2 separate regions of the Homo sapiens genome follow, and region 2 is linked to region 1. Evidence: fine-mapped expression QTL. A gene starts in region 1. The other region holds a variant in brackets. All regions are shown on one strand. Distances are from middle to middle.

The links. PIP is the estimated chance that this variant, and not a neighbour inherited with it, causes the effect.
Region 2: its variant is fine-mapped to the expression of PPP4R2 in monocytes after LPS (Quach 2016, PIP 0.91).

What each region holds. Positions count from the first base shown.
Region 1 is chr3:72,995,609-72,998,527 of GRCh38, reverse strand. It overlaps PPP4R2 (protein phosphatase 4 regulatory subunit 2), which reads right to left and starts at 1,717. Exons shown (of 9, transcript NM_174907.4): 1 at 1,457-1,717; 2 at 370-451. The coding sequence starts at 1,490. It overlaps LOC124909395 (a long non-coding RNA gene), which reads left to right and starts at 1,337. Exons shown (of 2, transcript XR_007095961.1): 1 at 1,337-1,421. RefSeq lists enhancers at 733-782, 2,043-2,092 and a silencer at 1,233-1,862.
Region 2 is chr3:73,064,672-73,067,590 of GRCh38, reverse strand. It overlaps PPP4R2 (protein phosphatase 4 regulatory subunit 2), which reads right to left. Exons shown (of 9, transcript NM_174907.4): 8 at 2,450-2,739; 9 at 1-2,194. The coding sequence ends at 1,869. Among named protein-coding and RNA genes, the nearest start is that of EBLN2, 4.5 kb to the right of the region's middle. The variant T/AT (reference allele first, on the strand shown) is at 1,612.

The DNA.
Region 1 (2,919 bases):
CTGAAACAGAATCAAAGCCACAAAATTCTAGGAATAAGCCTATTTGTTATGGCCAAAAAGGGTCATAATGGAATAGGCATTCTTCCTTTCTCTGGCTCGTTAAGACTAATACATTCTCTAAGCGTGCCAAAGCCTAGCTATAAAGAAAATTTTAACATACACAGGTTTTTAAAATCCGTTACAGACCATGTATAAAGTAAGTAAGCGTATACGTTCTTTAAATGTAAATATATAAATTATTTAAATGACCAGGACTTCTACAATTTAGAATGAATTATTTAATTATCCCAAAATATACTTTTTTCCCTTTCCTGAGCAATTCTTAATAATGCACTGGTCTATAACGACAAATGCATGTTTTCAACTCACATTGTTTCTCCAGTCTTGGCTACATGACAAAGAAACTGATCCAGGACAGGACAAACTTCCTTTTTCCCCCTCTTCTCAAAATCTAGATGAAGGAAGAAAAAAAAACGTTATCAGTTTTCTCAAAAGCGCTCTAAAAACAAACTTTCCTCCTAGTCCTTTACCTTATTAAAAATCAATTAAATACAAAATTAAAAAAATAAGGCCTCTCAACCAAATTACCACCTCAATCCTCCAAGTTCTACTTCCAACATGTCACCCTCTTTACAGATAACAAGAATCCTCCTAAAGGGGGCACTCAACTTCACAAACCATTTTTAACGCAGTGCTTCTCGAAGTGTGGTCCGGGGGAACACCAGCATTATATTAAGCTGGGAATCCAGTGAAAATAAAAATCCCCAGGCCCCGACTCCCACCAATTGTTCATCTAAGTCCATAAATCTGCCTTTCTAAGAAGCACCAACTACCCCAAGTTGCCGTCCCCAAATGATTCTGAATGTCAAAGAATAATTCTCAAAACGCTGAAATCTCTCTACTCGAAGTTTGTAAGCCACTGTTCTCAAGCCTGTTGCGTGGAAGGCGTGCAATCAAGAACAGTGAAGGCAACCACCTCGAAATTAGGGCGCGGAAAGATGACTTCAAAAGCCCTGAAAAAGGCATACTGAGACAACTTAAAAGTTGCGATGCTACCCCCTACCCCCGCCCCCACCAACCGTTTACTTTTTCTCCCACCCCAACGCCTAGCGTACGGGTAGCCTGGTGGAGAAAAGAGGATATCTGGGAGGGAGGGGTCTGCGGGTCCGCCACTCGTCCCCTGAACGGGTGGGAGAAAGACTGGGGCCCCCGCAAGAGTTTCCCCGGCTCCCCTCCCCCAGCCCAGACGCCGGCGGCCGACACAAAGCCAGAGCGGGGCGGGAGAGAGCTGCCCACAGGGCTCCCCGCCCCTGGGGAGGTGGAGGGGGATGGGAGCCCGGGAAGCACTCTCCCCACGCCGCGCCCGGCCCCGGTCCTCGGAACCATCCGCCCTGAAAGGAGAGAAGAGCGAGCCGGAGAAGGTGAGGGGGAATGGAGAGGGGGCAGCTACCCCCACCTTTCAGCGCCTCCTGGAGCCTCTCGACGTCCATGGCTTCCCGGAGTCCCTCACAGCCTCCGCCTCCCTCCGCGGGTCTCTTGGGGACCGGAACGCCTCCCCCCACCCCCCCGACGCCCTCCCCCTCCCTCGCACACACTCCGGCACGCAGGCGACCGGGGGGGGGAAACGAAGGGAGCCGGGGGAAGCGTGCGAGAGAGCAAGACCGACAGAGCGAGCACCTCCCCAAGCCGCTACCACCAACCCTCCAACATGGCGCCCGGTACGTCACCGCGCGCACGCTCCCTGCCGCCGTCCTCGCTCCCGCCGCGCGCTCCGGCCCGGAACCCGAGAGCGCGTGCGCGGCCGAGGTGTGACGCTGGGGCCCAGTGGCGTCTGCGTCCCGGCGGCTTCCAGAGCCTCAGCCCCAGCCCCAGCCCCAGGCCCAGGCTCCGCGGAGCTGAAGACTGGACGGTCAGGCGAGAGGGTTGCAGGCGGACTCCTAGGCTTTGAATCCCTGCCATTTCCTCTCTGTGTGAACTTAAGCTACTTACTTCGCCTGTCTGAGCCTCATTTTCCCCATCTGTACAGTAAGGGCACTGGTACTGATGCCCTATGCAGTTGCTGTGAGAATTCAGTGTATACACTTCACGTTCAGAATGCGCCTAAAAAACGTAGAGCGAGGCCGGGCAGGGGGCTCAGGCCGGTGATCCCAACACTTTGGGAGGGAGGCCGAGGCGAGAGGATCGCTTGAGCCCAGGAGTTCGAGACCAGTCTGGGTAACAAAATGACCCCGCTCCCTCGCCCTTCTCTATATAAAAATAAATACAGGCCGGGCGCGGTGACTCAAGCCTGTAATCCCAGCACTTTGGGAGGCTGGGGCGGGCGGAGCACCTGAAGTCAGGAGTTGAAGACCAACCTGGCCAACATGGCGAAACCCCGTCTCTACTAAAAATACAAAATGTAGTCGGGCGTGGTCGCTCGTGCCTGTAATCCCAGTTACTCGGGAGGCTGAGGCACGAGAATCGCTTGAATCCAGGAGGCGGAGGTTGCAGTGAGCCGATATCGCGCCACTGCCTCCAGCCTAGGCGACAAAGCGAGACTGTTTCAAAAAAATAATAATAAAATTAACAATACATACATACACTAAGCATTGCTAATAATCCTAACAAGAATACCTCCCTGCTTAACCCAACGTTCGTTCGTCACTGGCCCACCTGTGGCAAGAAGTAATGTATACAGCAAAGTCATTAAGAGCTCAAGGTTTGGAATCAATATTCAAATCCCAACTCAACTACTTACTCCTTGTGTGGCCCTGAAGTAGTTACCTAAACTCAGGCAGCTTCAGGGTTCTTATTTATAAAATGAGGGTTGTAAAACGGCCACGAGGATTGAGTGAAATGGCAAATGTGAAACATTTGGCACAGTGCGTGAAACCTGGAACACTCAACGTGGCTGGGTTTTTATTACCACTGTTAGCATTA
Region 2 (2,919 bases), 69 kb before region 1:
GCCTCATTTTAACATTTTTGAAAAATTTTTTAAAAATTTACAATGGTTAATTTTTCTCCCCTCTTGGGTATAGTAAATCAATATTCAGATTTTATTTCAACTATTAGACATAGTCATAAATATATCATCTAGCTGTTGTGAACCTGACAGTCAAGTCAGTCAGTAGTATATTATCCTACAAACATAAATGGATCCAAATCGTTTTGGTATTTATAGCCATGATGATTTAAGTAGTCAAAACGCAAAACTTGTGGTTGCCCCCCAAATCACCCAAAAGCATATTATACAGTGTCAGAAACTGTTTGCATCAGTTTTAGAAGCTCATCTGTGTAGTTCAGGTATCTGAAACTAAAAAAGGGGGGATTCTTTCATATTTTGATAAAAATGTAGTCAAATATTTCATAACATTAATATTTATTGCTTTATATGAATACTGTATTGAAAGCCCAAGCATTCAGTTTACACACAGAAATTATACAATTATATACCGCTTCACAAAGGCAGTGAACACATTACATTCTACAAAATCTACTTTACAGAAATTTAAAAACTTTAAATATCAAAAGGTACAGCTGAAGAAACAGGTATAAATTTGGCAGCCAGTAATTTTGACAGGGAAGTTACAGCTTGCATGACTTTAAATATGTAAATTTGAAAATACTGAATTTCGAGTAATCATTGTGCTTTGTGTTGATCTGAAAAATATAACACTGGCTGTCGAAGAAGCATGTTCAAAAATATTTAATTCACTTCAAAATGTCATACAAATTATGGTGGTTTCTATGCACCCCTAAAGCTTCAGTCATTTAGCTCAGGTACATACTAAAGTAATATATTAATTCTTCCAGTACAGTGGTGTTTCATACCATTGACATTTGCATACCCTAGAATAATTTAGAAAGACATGTGTAATATTCACAATGTTCAGAAAAGCAAGCAAAAGGTCAAGGAACCTACTTGGTTCTTCTGAGATGGTCTCATATCAGCTTCATAAACATTCATTCTACAAAATAGTAAGCTAACATTTGAACACAATTTCCAAGATAAAGCATATTTTCTCATAAATAATGAAGTCTTTTTCTCAGGCACCTCAGAAGTATACAAAAGAATTTGAGTTTGAACAGATCTCTTGGAATGTGTTTAACCTGGTATTTCAACAGACTTAAGATTTCCAGGGTTTCACAAGGGCCAGATTTTATTTCAATTACTCAGAAGAGAAAGAAAATGTCTTCTGAAAGAGGTGAACTCAATCATTACCAATAGAAAAAGTATCCACTGTATTCATCTCTTATAGAAACAGAAAAATATAACATTTCCCCCCTTAGAATTATATATATATATATATATATATGTATGTATATATGACTTAAAGTTCCATTGTACGTAGCCAAACAATAAAATCTGGAAACCAGCATGAAACCCTATAATTCACATGTTAAAATGTTGAAACTATGACCAAAATATGAAAACTGCTAGAGCTATCAGAAAGAGACAAGACAAAAAGCTTCTTGCATATGTATAAACTAAATGTGATAATCTCAAAAAACTTTTCAAAATTGTAATTACTTTCCAGTTTAAAAACTTCAATCCTAAATTAAAAAAAAAAAAAAA[T/AT]CTATACACAAACCACTGATTTGCCCAGACCAAAAAAAGAAAGAAAGAAAAGTCAGCGGTAAGGTAAGCAGGACCCAGAGGAGCTGATATTCACAGTTCTTACATGTACAACTCTTTCAGGAATTATCCATAAAGTACTTTATTTTACAACCTGCTTCTCTTGTAAAACTAAAGGTCCATTTTATTACACAAAAGTTTTATACAGTGTTAAAACCAGAACTGTATGTAAAATACTGCATCTAAATGTTTCTAAATAGTTAGTCTTGTTCCATTGGTTCATCGGTGACTTCTGTGGCTTCGTCATCATTTTCCATGGATGATTCTGAAAGAATCTCTCCAGTTTTACTGGAATTGGATCCTACTAATTCTTCTGTTTCACGGCAGTCAGAAGAACTACTACTTACAGGGCCTTCGTTTTCACTACCTTCAGAATGTAGCAAATCTTTCTCAGCTTGAGACACATCAGATTCCTCCATTTGATTATTTTCCTCAGAAGTCTCTTCATTCACAGTTAAGGCATCATCAGATTCTTTTTCTTGATTTTTTCTTTCTGGGATCATTTCTCTTGATGTCATAAAAGACTCTAAAAATAAGCAAATGTTGTTGTAGTTAAATTGTATTTTCAAAATACCTCCACAGTTAAGTTTCATGAATTCTGATATTCTATAGTTCAAATCACATCCCCTGAAATTCAGCAGCAACTACATACAGGTGGGAGAAAAGCCCAACATCAGCATTATAAGGAGTTCCATTACGTAAAATTCTTTCACGAAAAAAATGAAGTACAAGAATTTGAGGATCTCCTTACTCCACCCTTTTACAGATGGTCTCTAAATACCTTCTTCTTCCTCTTCATCCTCTTCTTCATCCTCTTCTGTACAGTGCTGCCGGGTACAACGGCTATCTTTGTCTTTATCCTGAGATGAAGATGATGCTTCTGTTTCTCCTACCATAACTGAAGAAATTTCGCTGGAAGTCGTTTGACTGGCTGTTTCTCTGACTTCACCTTCTTTGTCAAACCTGAGTCTTTTTACCTCATGCCCCTCAGCTTCCACAGCATCTTCATCTGGATGTTTATTTTTCAAAGGGCTCACTGAGGAAACTTCTGATTCAGAGGTCGAAGAGTCACTGTAAATGTTTTTTTAAAGTGTCATTAATAAGATTATTTTCCCCATCTTCTACATCCCCATTTTTAAGGTTAAATAATGTTTTAAATTGTATTTCAGTGTCAAAGTTAAATTATAACACCTGAACAAAGAAAAACACAAGAGAATAATTTCAAGGTAAACTAAACTGTTTGATGAATAA